Homo sapiens: one gene and its partner. The protein of the gene in region 2 interacts with the protein of the main gene of each other region in a biochemical or structural test. Each region holds a gene or a part of one and is shown on either strand. Other genes may lie near its edges.

Region 1 (7,830 bases), on a different chromosome or scaffold from region 2:
CCCCTGCCAATGCCAGCACCAACCTGACTCGGCAAACGTGATGATCTCCGAGGTCTGCTCCATAAGTTCATTCATTTCTGCCCTCCTTCCAATGTCATCCTCTATCTCCACATACCCGTTCTCCCCGACTTTGCCCACATGAAGCTTTCTGATCGCGTTCAGAAGCGCCGCCTTGGGTACCGGCTGGGTGACATCGGGTCTCTTCTTCAAGTGCAGCATGTTTAAAATGTGCTTCTTGACGGCCTCCACCATCTCTGGCTGAGAGTTGGGTACATCCTTTGGGAGGGCGGCCAGCGCACAGGACGGACAGTCGGGGGCCGCGCTGTGCCCCTCGGATCCTGGGGTGGGGGAACTCCTCACTATAATCCAGCAACTTGCCAACAGAAATCCTCTCAGCCAAAGCAAGGGCATCCTGGCAGCAAAAGTTGTTGTGATTGCCTTTTTAAAAGGCCCTGCTTTTCCTCCCCCCTCACGCGCAGGTTTTTTTGTGTGTGTGGATTTTTTTATTTTTTTTTTTGGTGTTTTTTTTTTCCTTCTCCTCTTCAGCAAATTCTCTGGAACAAGAACAAAAAGTTTTCTGTGAAGTTTTGTTTGCAGGTTCCTCTCTGAATGCAGTCAGTGCTGTAGGTTTGTGGCTGTCAGGGAGGAGAGTTCTGACTGTCTCCGAGTAAGAGAGAAGGAAGGAGGGAGGGAGGGAGGGAGACAGGGAGGGAGGGAGAGACAGGGTGGCGGGGAGACAGACAGAGACAGAGAGAGAGGATGGGAGGGAGACAGAGACAGAGAGAGAGGAGAGAGGGGGAGAGAAGAGAGAGGGAAAGAAGGGGGAGAGAGAGGGAGAGAGGGAGGGAAGGGAGGGGGAGAGGGAGAGAGGGAAAGGAAGAGAGAGAGAGAGAGAGAGAGAGAGAGAGAGAGAGAAAGGATTGGCCCTAAGTAAGTGAGTGAATGGAGAGGGAGGGAGTTTGCTGTGAGTAGGGCTGTGATTAGGGAGGGAGGGACAGCCCGTTTTCTGACAGGCTGCTCTCCTTCTGCTCTTAGCTTCCTCACAGACACCTCTCTTCAAATATCACCATTTTCGGGGGTTCTACTTTCTCTTCTAAAATAAATTATCCTAATTTTGTTCACTATTTTTTTTTCTTTCTCTGCCCAGTCTCCTGGTTTCACCTTCTTCCTTTTTTGGAGGGGAGAAAAGAAACCCCAAACAAACACAGTGTCTCAATCAATAGGGATGAATTGATTGAAAAAGTGTTCCCACCGCCCCTCCACCCAGCCAAGCCACAGCCCTAGGTGGTAGAACGCCCACCTGGCCACGTGGTGGGGCAGAGGGTGCAGGGAGGTCCAGTGGACAGGTAGTGGAGGTCAGGGAAGAGGGACTCAGGGGTAACAGAGGATTGTTCTGGCCTGATGGGATCCAGGGGAGATGGTCCTTTCCCCCAATTCATTCATATTTAAATGTTCAGGTCATCAACACTGGCAGGCAATCTGAGGAGAGCGCAATGGAACTTTTGTTTGGGGTCATATAATACACTCCACTCTTCCCAACTGTGAAATGCAGCAGGGCACTGAAGGACCAGAGGGCAGGCAGCCTGTCACAAGCCCAAGTTCCAGAAGCGCTTTCTCCCCGTCGCGTTCAGCTGCCCCCTTCTGCCGGGGACCCACTCACTCTCACACATTACAGCCTACCACCACTCGCCGGACTTCACAGATAAAATGCAAAATTCTCTTGGCCTTTCCCACATCCTTTTATAAAAAGAGTGCACTCGTATGACTTGAATAACTGGTCCTATGGGAAAAGACTCTCTAAAATATATTGGCAAATTATTTTTCTCTGTCATGTGGTAGTTTTTTCAGCTTGCCCCAAGCCTGTCCCGACCAGTGCATTCATAGACAGCCTCCTTGACTGCTTCTTTTTCCCTCAAAGGAACAGTGCAGATGAAATCATCATGGATTTTAGTGTGCACAGAAAAAGAAAAATGTGAATTTTTTAACAATGCCTTTCTAAGGCTTAAAAAAAATTCTTCCCCCTCCCCTCTTTTTCATTTTCTGTCTTATTGCTTTTATCTTGCAGAAGAATCTTTAAGGGGTCCATCTGTTAAAGCGTTCCTTCCCTCTCGGTTTCTTTCCCACACATAAGCCCTCTTGGTTTCTGAAGATACACTCAGCTTATATCTGACACCTAGTGTGTTCATAGCATTACAGTCAAGCAATGCAGTTTAGGTGGAAAGAGTTAATAAATATCATTACTACAAGATAAGATCTGAGTGCAAGGGGAAGAGGGCAAGAAAATTGTGACACTAAGTTATAATTACAGTTTGCACAGGTTAACAATGCTTTCTGAATTATATATACTGTCCCCTTTTCCAAAACAACTATTTGTAAGACTTTTTCTGTTACAAGTAACCTAACACCTTTGGGGTTTCAGCTCCAGAAACATCAATTACTCCACCATTATTGTTAAAACTTTGTCAACATTGCCTAAAAAGCCTCATATTTTTTACGGGGATGGTGAAAGAGAATGGGGGAGGCAGGGGACATTTGTGTTACAATGGTTTTATAAAAAATCTTTGTGCTATAATACTTAACATCATCCACCTATTTGGAGTCACATATACAGTACCCAAAATGTTTTGCAGTTCAATTAAGTTTTACAAGAAAGTCTGAAATACAACCAAAAGTTTAATGGCTCTAAACAACTCAGGAGTCCTAATAGCAGCATTTAGATAAGTGCAACTTATCAATATTTGGATTCTCTCTGCATCTGAGTATGTGTGTGTTCCCTGAATTTACTGTTTGCGAATGTAACTCTTAAAAATAGCTTTCTCTTTGGCATATGTACTTGTATATATGTGCTGAGTGGCTTGTATAAACATATAATCTATTTGCATGCTCTAGGACTATTAAAAGCTGTATTAACCTGCCTGAATAATATAAAAAGGTACACATCACAATGCACATTGGAAATGCCAATTAGTTGTAAAATTCCTCCTAGCTTTCCTATCTTTGAATGTGTAAAGAGCTCAGAAGTAAGAGTTAAAAAGCATTACCTTTCTGGTCCCCACTCTTCCACCAGCCGGCTCTTGTATCATGTGGTAAGAGCTGTCTGAGCTCCTCTTCATGGTATTGGCACTGTGAAGTTTTATACTGTACTACTTATTTGTACACCACACATTGGTACCACTGAAACAGAGGAGGGCTGGGGCTTTGTTTGGGATTGGTTGGAATCAGCATGACATCAGCGGATGACTGGTTTTTCCAGTGTGAGACATTTCATAATTCATTATCTAATGGAAAGCCCTTCCTGGCTTCTGAGACACTACTGGGTGATGCACTGAGCCAGTGAAACCTCTGGCTAGGATTACTCTACCTTTTAGAAAAACATTGGAATCAAATAGATATGTCTCAATGAGTGTGTCCAACTTTCAACTTTTACTACTCGCACACACGTCTCGTTATATTCAGGTTCAGTTTTATGTCTTTACATAAAACATCTGTTACTTCATGAAGTTGCTTCTATTTACAAAGTATTTTATTGTTTCTTTCAGGAAAGAAAATTGGTAGTGTTCTTTATAGGGATTCTAATTTTATATTTTTAAAATAAGCTATTTCATTGAGGAAAAAAATTGGGAAAATCTGTATAATCATATGATGATGGTCTCCCCCGACCCCAACCAACTTACACTATTATTTTACATCTTGAAATTGAATGCCTGCTTCATAAATCAAGAACTTTGGAAATAGTAATTCTCTTTAAATGAACTTCATAAGTATCCTTCCCAGGTCTTTAGAATCTCATTCTAACTAACCAAACACACACACACACACACACACACACAACAACAACAACAACAAAAACCCTCATGCATCATTCTTTTTTACCAGAACTTCAACTCCTATAATTTCTAAATTGTTACAAATATAACAGCAGATTAATGAAAAGAAGTGAACACTCCTTGAAATAGGGGTAAAGCTGGTCAGGCTTTTTTTGTGGGGGAGGGGTGTTGGCAAGTCTGGTAAATAACACAGGAGGAAGGGGTCCTCTGACAAGAACGGTGAAGGGTTGTTTGAAGGACTACAGTTGAAGCATAAGCCCAGTTCTCATGACAAGTTGGATAAAATGTGCAAAATTGGGAGCTAATGAGAGCCATATGACCAGATATGTTGTTTTGTATGCAGGATTTAACATGCATAAAATAAACTTTTCACTGTGCCCACAAGCAAAATATAGAGGCTCTGGCCTCCTGATGTGTGGCTTAAGCAGGTTCCATTAGGACACCAGAAGTTTTCTGTGTAAAAGGGTCTCTCTTGGCTAGATACAGAGAAAGTGTGGGTGCTGAGCTGCATGGGGGTGGGGGGAAGGAGTATTCTAAGAACTGCATATGCAGAAATGAAGTAGGAAAAAAATCATTAGGTTGTAGAGGAAGAGAGTGAATCTGAGTGGCGAAGACAGAAATAGGATTAATGATGGTGAACTCCAAACCTGCCCCTCAGCTTAGCACTGGGTGAACTCAAACCCTTTATAAGAAAGAAACTTCTCCACCCTTTTTGCTGAGAATTAGTGGAGTCAATGACCTTCAGGGCATCTAAACTCACCCCTGACCCACACATGAACCCTAGTGTCCTGAAAACATCCCCTCCGCCTCCACACAAAGTAGTGTGTGTGTGTGTGTGTGTGTGTGTGTGTGTGTGTGTGTGTGTGTAGGTGACGTGGGGTGGGGGTGGGGGGCACAAAACAAACCCAGATCAGATCCCAGTTCCTCTGCTCACTCACCGTGTAAACTCAGGCCTCAGTGTTCCCATCTATAAAATGGGATCCATGATATGAACCTGTGGGGGTCAAGTGCAGCTGTCAGATAATAATAAGTGATACTATTTCTGAGAAGCCTGGTGGCTGTTCTTAAACATGGGTGTCACAGGAATCTGCAGCTCTCTGACCAGAGGAGCCACAACACAAGTGTGACTCTGAAACTCCGCTGGCCATCTGATGCCACCGAGTGCCCACCTGCCAGGCCAGCCTACCAGCCGTGCTGCAACCCCTCTGCAACCACCTGCACCACAGTGGCAATGCCTCCTCCCTCGGTGCAAATCAAGGTGGGGGTGGTGGAGGAAGCAGGCAGGTTAAAATAGCTTCTGTGGAATATTCTAGACTGGGAATCAGCTTTTCCCTGCGGAACTCAAGGGCCCGGGGCACAAGCTGGTCAGCCCAGTCCTGACCAGAATCTCCTTCTCCTTCCTTGGTTTGGTTTCTCTTTCACTTCCCCCTCCCCCGGAGCTTCCCCGCACCCCAGGCCCTTCGGGTCCCGGCTTCTCGGCCCTGCTACTGTACCTTGAGCAGCACCTGCTGGCAGCTTCCAGGGATCACGCCGGAACGCGGCCGCTGCTCGAGCCCAGCTCGCAGGATGCCTGGAGCCAGGGCCAAGCCGGTCTAAGCGGCAGCCTCTATTTTTACCCTGAGCACCAGCAAGGGCAACTTCTTTTAAGAGCAGCTCTTGATTTTTTCCCCCCTTTTGGCAGCTAAAGAATTCAGGGAGGGGAAAAAAATCACTGTTCAGTGAGTGCAGCTGGGAATCTCTGAACCCAGCCCTCAGTGCCAGGGAGTGAAACCACAGCAAATGTCAGGGAGCGGGACCTGCGGAGGGGCCGGCTGGCTCCCCGCGGACAGAGGCGAGCCGGGAGCGCTCGCGCACCAGCCAACTGCCCCCTTCTGAGTGCGGAGCGCGGTCCTCCAGCGACTGCACTAGCAAAGTGGCCCGCTGCCACCGCGTTATTCACCTAGTGGAGGCGGCCTGATTTACTGGCGACTTCACAAACCCAACTCCACGCTGGAGCATTTGCATGGCTCTGTTCTCGCCTCGAGGAGCAGCCACTAGCGAACCCGGTGGAGCAGCTTGCTGCGAGAAGGAGCCGGGAGGGAAACTGTGGTACCTTATTTTACTGTAATTGCAAAAGGAACGATGTGCCAGAGATTTATATTTAGAAGTTGTATGTTTCTACTTTTATGTAAATGGAGCAATTAGGGCCTGTCTTGCTGCTGCTAACTCCAATGCGTGTGCATTGCTGGGGAGCTGGTGTTTTCAATCACAATTAGTGAGCTGGTCAAAAAACAAAGTTCGTTTAAGGATAAGAGCTCAATTGTGCGAATGGGGGAGAGGCCAGCGTTCGTGTGCTGGCCCGTGGCTTACGGTGACACCTAGCTTAGGGCCACGGCCAACCCTATAGTGGTGTTTACCTGTGGCAGCAGCTGTCCCTGTTCAAAGTTGGCATAGATGAGGAAGCAAGAATGTTCACTTTTCTTCTCAAACCGTCTGTCCTTCAGCTTTCATCCACGCTATTAACTGGTCTCTTTCCTCACTACTCCTGGAGCAAGGAGACAGGACCAGAAAAGGGAGTGGGGGTTGGGGCATTTTTCAGGGCTCTATTATTTTAGCTGCTGCTCACGGATTGCTGTTATTCAGTCAAAAATACAAGCCAGGAGACGCGAACGCCCCAAGCAGGTGACTGGGATGTTGTTCTCTGATTCAGCTGAAATGACACAAGGCTGGGGGTTCAGAGGCACGGACAAGAGTGCTGACGAGTCACGGTGTTTTCTTTCCTTCCTATGAAAAAATCTGTTTCCAAAAAAGCATGATTTCTGGTTCATCCCGTCTGGGAAACCGAACATAAAACGTGACTATGGAGAGAAATCAAAAGGACTCGAGGTGTTCCCAGCAGCTGATGTGTTATTCTGGGGCTCAGGCCGGAAAACCTGGCCTTGTTGGTGAGGGGTGACTCCCTCCAGAGGCAGCTCAGAATCCAGAGAACGTGGGCAGGATCCAGAGTACTATTTGCTGCAGGGAGACTGCGAGAGTCTGTGATGAAGGGTCTCATCAAATGGTTTAAATCGAACATGGGATTGGCAAACCCTGCCTGTTTCCTGGACAGCCGCAGCCTGTACATAGCTTGGGCTGAATGTTAGGTAGAAAGATTTGGGACAAAGGAGAATCAGCGTTTCACGTTCAAAATTGAACTGGGAAGCTGTTTTGCTTTTAAGTTAAATCAATGAATGAATAGATCGAAACAGAGAGAGAGAGGAAAGCATTAAAAAGTCCCCTGAAATTCATTGAGAACAACAGGGTCAGAAATGGTTAATCTGAAACTTGACTCGTAAGCTTCACATTTCTTTCAGAACCACCAGAATATCCCACAAGGCCTTCTGCTATGTAAGAGCACTCTGTTTTTAGATTATTTGGAAATGCTGCTTTCTGAACCAAGGGAACCCAGATACTAGAACTAAAACAATTAGGGAAAAGAGAAGGAGGAAGAAAACCCAGTAAGTAACCTATTACTCTTCATTCTACAGCAGTGGTTCTCAACCGGGGCGATTTTGCTCCCCGGGGAACATCTGGCCATGTTTGAAGACATTTTGGTTGTTACAGCTGGGAGGGAGGTTCTACTGATCATTAGTGGGTAGGGCCCAGGGATGCTGCTGAATATCCTACCATGCACAGGACAGCCCCCAACAACAAGAAATTACCTGGCCTACAGTGTTCATTGTTCTGCAGTTGAGATACCCTGATTTCATATTATAATTGTAAAGTTTCACTCAACCTTCTCCCTATCCATCTCCAAGAGGCCTTGGAAACCAAAAAAAAAAAAAAATTGCAGCTCTACAAAATACTAATAATTCAAGTGATTCTGCTTCCTTTTGCATCTTATGTTTTCTGATTACTGGAGACTACAGATACAATGTTCCTCTTGGGCAACCTCGTTGTTCCAACCAACTTTCACGTATGGTCTCAATACATTTTCCTGCTGGCTTTTTGTTCTGACCTAAAGCAGAATCTTGGTGACCAGCAA
Region 2 (8,182 bases):
CCCTGTGCCCCAACACCCAGAGGAAAGGACCCCGGGGCAGTAAGCCCCAGACACTGAACATAGCACACTAGGTAGATGCCCAGGCATGTGCAGTGCCCCTCACACTGTGGACTCCAAGACCAGCAAGGGCAAAACCCTTCACTCCCAGACACGCTGCACTAAAAGACTGGCCTGAGTCACGGTGTGCTTCACAGAGGCGCCACAGATCTCTTCCAACGTTGCTGTTAATTTGCTGAAGAAGTTAAATCCCAAGTAAAATCACCCCATTCAGGTCTAAGGGCCATCCTTCTACCAAGTTTAAGCGGGGTTACTTGTCATTCTGAACACTGACCGATCAAGTTACATGTTACATGTGAATTACATGTGAAGCTCCAAACAACCCAAGAGGAGGCGGCCTCTTCAGTTCTCACCCAGGTCAACCTCTCCCCACGGCCCCCGCCTTGCCTACCCTCACGATGAAGAGATGCACTGTTTTTAAATAAAATGATCTAAAGAAACCAGAAGGAAAAGCCTTCACAAACAAGACTGATAAATGCCCAGACTTGGCCCAGACAGCCAACCTACAGTTGATGACAATTATTTACAAGGGGGCGTTATCAAACAAAAATGGTAGCACTCCCTAGAAGATGCAAACTTTTTTCTTTTTCTCTATTTCTTTTAAACTTCCTTGTCACAAAAGCCAACTTACATTAAAATATACTTACTACAAGACAACACAACTAACAAAATATATAATAAACCTTACATAAGTAGAAAATTCTGAGGTATTTCTGGTTTGAGGTGATCTGTGGTCGTGAAGTTTTAATTCTTTTACTTTTCAAAATTTAAACCTTGGAAGCCACATAGCGAAGCATGTGTATATGTGGATGTGTGTGTTTTGTTTGAAAAAAAAAATTTAGCATGTTTCATAAATTAAAAAGAATTCAAATGTTGAAACAGCAGCATTAGGAACATTCACTGACTAGAGCAAGGTTATGGCATAATAGAAAAACAGTTTTTTAGAATATGTACCACTTTAAGGGGTCTGGAGAAAGTCTTGTCCACGAGCCACAGAACGGGGACAGTAATGTCACCACCTGGGGCGGAACCAGAGGTGCAGGACTCTGGGGTCCCCAGCGAGGCAGGCCTTGGCAGACTCCACCCAGGAAATCCTCTTGCCCTATCTGTGCAGGACAATCCCCTGTGGGCATTTCCCTGAACTGCTCCAAGAGGAAACAAAAGTATTTCAACTTTTCGTCCATTAAGGGTATTTACAGCATCGTGTCTTATGAAGAATGTATTCCTAACCTGTGATGATTCTACCCTCACCTAGTTTTAAAATTAGGGCAGAAAAAATGTTTCATCCTATGCCCAAGGCCAAGTTAGTGAAAAGAAACTGGTCAGGGCCAGCAGGTAAGTCAGGGCTGCACCCAATCTCAGACTTTCTCCAAACCCCGCTCTTGCTGTTAATGCTCGGCCTCCACAAGGTCCTTCCCCTCAATTCCTGGTTACCTGAGAAGTAGCCTCCATACTAAAGGATGCTGCTCCGAATGTGCCCGAGTCCAGTGTAGCTCTGTTCCAAACCCTACCCCCAGTACCGTCCTCCCCTTCCAACTCCAGTCCAAACCATTCTCATCCCAGTTTTTTTCTCGATCAGGACAACACCCGTTAGATCCGTGAAAGACACATCTGCTGTTTCTTAAGCTCACTAAAACAAAATAAAAGGAGGGGAGGGAGGGAGGCAGGGGAGAAGGGCAGAGGGCAGAGGAAACTCCTCTTCTGAGGAAGGTATGTTCTTATGTAACAGTCTTCAAAGGTTCCTCTAGGTAGAGTTTGCAGCATTAGGTTTCCTAAGACAGGAGATGGGTTTCTTTGTGTCACAGATTCTGAGACGACAAACAAAGAGAAAGCGGGAAAAACGAATCCCAAAGGACAGGAGGTGGCTGAGGCTCTTCAGCATGGCGCTGGTTCTGCATCCACAGCTCAGCACCTCAACGCCTGCTGACGTGTCCGCTGTTTGTGATACAGTAGAGCAATATGCTGGTAAAAACTGATCCAATCCAAAAAATAATATTAATAATAATAATTATAATAATTATAATAATAATAATAAAAAGTCAAGGTAAAATAGCAGCTGCATTTTATGTGTTTGTTGGTTTTATGGGATTTCCAAAACAAAACACAACTTTTTTTCCTTTTTTCTTCAGATCCACTGAGTCTGGACAGACACTCATGTCCTGGGCTTAGATGCTTGACTCTTTAGGGGGCAGGTCCACATTGGTGACAGAGGTCACCAGGGAAACGAGACAGTCCGAGGTAGTGCCGTTGACCGACCTCCGAATCAGGGACACCCGCTCCTCCACACAGCCCGCGGACAAGCGAGCCTCTGCATCATGGTCCCAGCACTCCTCGATGGTCACACAAAGCTGGGCCAGGCCCTAAGCAGCATAGGGCAGACAGGAAAGACACCTTTGTTAGGACCCTTCAGTGAGGAAAAGCTTTGGGGGACAGTAAACTTGATATTCCCAAGGATCAGGCAGAGCCCACCAGCCCCAACCACAGCAGCAGGTCCACCAGCAGAGGCCTGGGGAAAACTTCAGGAATCAGCATGCCTGCCTTCATGGCAGTCATCTTTCTGAGCTTACTGGCCTCACTCCACAGCCCTAGGAAAGGTTCATTGAACCTCAACATACACAGGAGGGAGAAGGAGACACCAAGGCCCCTACTAGGATAGACACCACTACTTGCCTTGAAGTGCTGATATTCAAACAAAATCTTATTGGAAGCCCAAACCATACAAGTGCCCAAAATGTAGCAGTTCAGTCAAAGTGGGGATCAGGAGAAGGACATCATCCTACCTCACTCCCCATAACCCCTGGAACACATCCCTAGAGTCCAGGGAACGTCGCAGACTTTCTATTTGCCCATTCCCCCTTGATTTCAGCTTACCTGCTACACATGAAGGGTTTTCCCTTCTCCACCCCCCTGCAAAGTTGCCTGAACCAGGCCCCTTACCGGGTGTTTCAACCAGTGATCTTTAATGGTGGGCCTCATCTTCTTGTGCACCACCACCTCCTGCAGCTCCTCCAACGAAGGGTGCTGGCCAATCTCTTCCTCAAAGGGCAGCATGTACTCATCCACGGGTCCTAGGAGAAAGAGAGAGCCTGGCAGGATCACTCTAAGGTCCCACTGCTCCCTATCACTCAATCTAGGATGCCCAGGGCTGCCATCCTACTTACCGTCTGCAGCCTTGCAGCGAGACACAAGCTCCCACAGCACCAACCCCATGGCATACATGTCAATGCGCAGGAAGGCATCTCTCTGGAAGTTGATGGCTCCCTCGAGCACCTCAGGAGCCATGTACCGTCTCGTGCCTACCTATGTGAGGACAGAGGAGGGCAGGATTTACAGTGACTGGCCATACACACACAGCTGGGACATGGGAGTTACAGCCTCTGTGCACCAGATGGCGGGCAAGACAGAGCAATTCAGACAGGTTATCAATGATAGCAAACCTCGATTCACCACATTCACAACAGTTACAAGAGGTCACAGCATCAATTATACTTGGCTAATAATTTTTAAATACTATATCCTGGAGATAATAGTAATCTAAAATGGAATTGTTACCAAATTAATACAAGGAACTACAGATGATATGTATCTGACTGAGATTAAGACCAAAAACAAAGAGGGAAGGAGAACACTTAAAAAATAATAACAGTGATTGTTTTAGGAATGATTTCCTAAGTTTAATTTTTAGTTACTTTTTCCAGGTTCTTTGTTTGGATCCTTAGTACATTTCTTTGTTTTGTCTTAGGAATTAAAACTAAAAAAGTGAGAGAAAGACTAAGATTGCAAGGACTAGTGGTCAAAACCCCAGTGGGGAATCTCTACATTTCCCAGCTGACTGTCCTACGGAAGCTAAACTACACTGCCTTCCTGGTCTTGGTTTCTCCACTGGTCAAACAAGAGCATTGCTCTAAGTTCTCAGACAGCTCTGAACGCATGCAGTCACCCTCATCCCTGCACCTCCCCAGCTGAGCACAAAAAGGGCAAAGTATCTACCCTGGGTCTGTCCCTCTCTTCCTGCCCTGTGAGGCCTGTTACCTGTCCGTGGGTGTCCCCTGGAGGTTTCCCTGGCTCAAATCGAACAGCCAAGCCAAAGTCAGCCAGCACGGCTGTGAGGTCGCTCTTCAGCAATACATTCTTACTTTTAAAGTCCCTGTGGAAACAAGTGGGCAGAGATAAAGCTTAACATCATGATCCAACTCCCACCTTGGTTCCCAAGATACTAGAGTCTGTGCCCTAGAGTCAGGCCCCAGACCAGGCCATCCCACCCTACCTGGGGTGCAGAGGTGAAGCAGCACAAGCAGGCAGCTGCAGGCGCCGACATGGGTGTGAGAATCCCTCAGTGCACTTCAGATGGAAGGCTTCCCCCAGGGTTGGCAAAGCAACACCTACCCTAATGGCTGGGCAGACCCTGTCCCAGTCCCCACACTATCAAAGGCCAGCCCATATATTCTCAGAGGGGTTGTGGACAGGCACACTGGCCTGGGATGCAAGTTTTCTGAGAAGAATTTACAGCATTTGGAATGTGAATGAGAATAGGAATTTAATATTAGCTTTCCTAGGATCCTGCAGAGACCCCTTAGGGTCTCAAGCTCACCATGAAGGCCGGCTGGAGCAAGGGTGCTATTGCATGCACCCAGCTCCACCTCTAACTAAGCAAAGCTACTTGTGGTACTCAGTTTCCCCAGTGCCTGTCTCAGCCTTGTGAGGATTCGACTGAGTGGTAAGTGCAAATGTTTAGGGCCACACCTGGCATACTTACTAGGTATTCCTATTAAGTTGAGCCATATAGCAGAGACAACATTCAACCTTTTGACCTATAAAAACGGCAATTTCATACAGTCTACCTTCTATGTCATTACTGTTATTACCATCAGGGACCCTTCAGCTTTGAACGCTGGAATTTGAGGTTCATTCCCCTCCCTCACAGTCACAGAACCAGACTCAACTAGCTACAAGACCTTGGCTAAGTCATTCAACTTCTCTGTACTACTGTTCCTCCATCTGCAAGACAGAGCTGAGAAATACAGTACTTGTCTCAATGGGCGGTAATGAAGGTCAAATGAATTGATACTTCTCAAGTGTTTAGAGCACTGCCTGCCATTTAGTAAGCATGACAGTGATGAGCTCATCCAGAGTTTCTTAAAGGGTGGTTCGAGGACCCCAGAAGATCTCTAAGACTGTTCCAAGGGAATCTATAAAGTCAAAATTATTTTCATTTATTTGCTTTTATAAGGCTCATTCTCTTAGGAGCATAGAGTTTTCCCGAGGCTACATGAGATGTGATGTCCTCACTCTGACAGCGAATGGGATGTGTGGGTGTGCTCAAATACAGCAAATATCAATAGTCATAATCCACTTACACAAAAGTCATTTTAAGAGTATAAAGGGATCCTAAACTAGAAAATTTGAGAACTACTGAGCCAACTCTCCAACCAAAGTAATGGAGTCAGCACTTCATGTGGCCATTAGAGGGCACCAAAAACCAGCTTGGGAGGCCATGCCATCCCCAGGACACAGTGGGAAGGCCAGGTTTTGTGCCCAGCTGCCTCGGACACACAGCAAGCAGGGTAAGTATGTTTAGGAAGTTGAGACATCTCCAGACACTGCTCTCGCCCACCAACCCTTCCCACAGCTCCAGGTCAAGTGCAGGAAAGGCACCTGCTGACCCAGGTACCTGTGGGCAATAGACGGCTTGTGGCCCTCGCCACGGCACCAGGGCACATCCTCATGCAGGTATGAGAGGCCTCGTGACATCGTCTCTGCTACATGACACAGTTCGTTCCATGTGATGATGTTCCCCTTGAGGTAATCCGTGAGGGAGCCCTGAGAGAAGACAGCACAGAACTTGAGCACAGATTCTGGGTACAGGACAGGACCCAGCCCAGCCCTGGCAGAGAAGTCTCAGTGGGCCAATGGCTAGGCTGCTCTCCTGGAAGGCTACTACAATCGATATGGAAGATGGATGAGGCCAGGAGGCAGGGAGGGCTAGGGGTGGGAATCATGGAGTCACTACTCTTATCATAAAAACTTATCCCAGGGTGAGAGGTTCCTATCATAGGGGAACCAATGTCCACACCTATGGCAGGAGTAACCCCATAGTGGATAGTGCTACCGGGGCAGAGTACTTCATGGTGGACACCTCCACAGGGAAGGGGTCATCATATTATGGAGAGCCACCAAGGGGACATTCCATCTCCTCTCAGAGTCCATTCTGATGGGTGTGGCTCACCTTGTCATGGAAGGCCGTGATGAGCCACAGCTCTACTTCGAGGTTGGAGCCTCGCTTCTCGGCAGCAATGAACTGTAGCAGGTTCTCGTGCTTCATGCCAGGTGTGCTGAAGATCTCCCGTTCACTCTGCCACGACTGCTTGTCCTGAGGCCGGGGGCGAGGGGTTGGGGGGACAAGTGGCTGGCTTAGCCCTGCTGCAGTCACATTGCCCTACAGCAGAACAACCATTCCCCATTCCCCACCCTCAAGCCTCCCAGCCCAATCCCCACCCCCCAGCCTCCCAGCTTCAGCATTTGTAAGGGGACCAGGAGAAGACCTGTATTAAGCTAGGCCCCAGAGCATGAGGCCAACAGTGATCCCTGAGATCACTTAAGGCTAGCACTTCGATTTACAAATGGGGCCACTAAGGTCCATGCATGGGGTGTGAGTGACCCCGTATCACCCAACAAATGAGGCAGAGCCAGACCTGGTGTCCAGGGCCGCTGGAAAGAACCCAATGTCAAAAACAAAACCCTGGTAACCGGGGCAAATCAAGGTTTTGCAAAGCCCTACCCTAGTCCTATGATAAAATTCCATAGTTGCATGAAATCTACAGACCAGCCAAGTGTAACATGAGTAACTAGGCCCAGTAAGGCTCACTTTTCTCTCATACCACAATATTATTTGGGGTTTGGATTGCCCCAGGTCAGGAGAGCCTCCAGTTCAAGCTACAGTGGAGGCAGAGGACCTGGATGGAGCCCCTCAAACACTCACCTGGAGTGGGAAGATCTTGACAGCTACAAAGTCATTCATGAGCTGGGCCTTCCAGACACAGCCAAAGCGCCCCCGAGCCTTGATCTCCAGCAGCTGCAGTGGCTTCAGGCCCACCAGAGGGGATGGTGGTGGAGGCCCAGGGTCCTGGGGGAGAGCAAGGCTTAAAAAGGTCTGGCCTGTCCTCCCCACCTCTATCCTGCCCTGCCCCAAGCCAGCACTGTCTCACCTCATGGATGTCCACATGACCGTAGGGGGGCTTGCGATGCCGGTACATCCAAAAGGCCAGCAGGACGATGAGGGAAAGGCCCCCGATGGGCAGCAGTGAGTAGGCCAGCACCGTGAGCAGGGTGGGGGCTGTCGGGGGTGGCTCGTACGTGACTGGGGGACACACAGAGCCCTGTGTCAAACAGTCTGCCCACCCTCACACTTCCAGAGCCAGACTACAGGGCCCTGTAGCCACACCCCACCCAACTGAGGAGCCAAGCGCTCCAAGCCAAAGAAGCCCAGGTCGGCTGACTCAAGGCCCCACTTCCACACTGCCCCCTTACCTTCCGGGCCCCCAGCCTCTGGCAAATGAGTGAAGCGTTCGTTGCAGAAGTTGCCTTCACAGCAGCAGAAGTACACCTGGGGGTTCTCCTCAGTGGCCACACACTCCTGCCTGGAGGCACAGAATTTTCCATATACCCCTCACCTGGGGGATGCAAGACTCCCCCAGGCCTGCCCTGCCAACCCCTCCTCACAGACAGAGCACCTCATGGGCAACACCAGGGGGACGGTGTGAACTCACCTCCCCTACAGGAGACCCAAAGCCAAGGAAGAACAGCCAGGGGTTGACACTGAGACCCCTCCTCAGGGCTAAGGTAGGACAAATAGGGTGTGGAAGGGCGTGGGGCCATGGCTACCATCTCAAGAGCCCCTTCTTGGTCCTTTATCTCCCACTCAGACATCCTGAGACCCAAATGGCCCAGTGGGCAGTATAAGCGCAGGTGGGTCCAAGAGGAAAGGAGGGCAAGTCTTGGGGTACCTATCGTAGCAGTTGAAGTCATCTAGCCAGCAGCCCTTCTTCACGAGCTCGATGGTGCCAGAGCTGTTGCGCCAGGAGGCGTAGCAGTGCAGCCGCTTGTCCTGCTCGCCTTCGCAGCGCTC

Evidence for each region.
Region 1: the proteins of ACVR2B (region 2) and INHBA form a complex in vitro, tested with the Homo sapiens proteins (one study listed by BioGRID).

The regions. Positions count from the first base shown.
Region 1 is NC_000007.14:41,699,964-41,707,793, forward strand, and holds the start of INHBA (inhibin beta A chain preproprotein), read right to left. Parts: upstream 3,128-7,830; 5' UTR 3,042-3,127; intron 555-3,041; 5' UTR 412-554; coding exon 24-411; intron 1-23. UniProt on the Homo sapiens protein: Inhibins/activins are involved in regulating a number of diverse functions such as hypothalamic and pituitary hormone secretion, gonadal hormone secretion, germ cell development and maturation, erythroid differentiation, insulin secretion, nerve cell survival, embryonic axial development or bone growth, depending on their subunit composition.
Region 2 is NC_000003.12:38,477,373-38,485,554, reverse strand, and holds part of ACVR2B (activin receptor type-2B precursor), read right to left. Parts: coding exon 8,061-8,182; intron 7,695-8,060; coding exon 7,585-7,694; intron 7,415-7,584; coding exon 7,263-7,414; intron 7,181-7,262; coding exon 7,037-7,180; intron 6,428-7,036; coding exon 6,284-6,427; intron 5,878-6,283; coding exon 5,729-5,877; intron 4,205-5,728; coding exon 4,090-4,204; intron 3,358-4,089; coding exon 3,219-3,357; intron 3,126-3,218; coding exon 2,995-3,125; intron 2,418-2,994; coding exon 2,223-2,417; 3' UTR 1-2,222. UniProt on the Homo sapiens protein: Transmembrane serine/threonine kinase activin type-2 receptor forming an activin receptor complex with activin type-1 serine/threonine kinase receptors (ACVR1, ACVR1B or ACVR1c).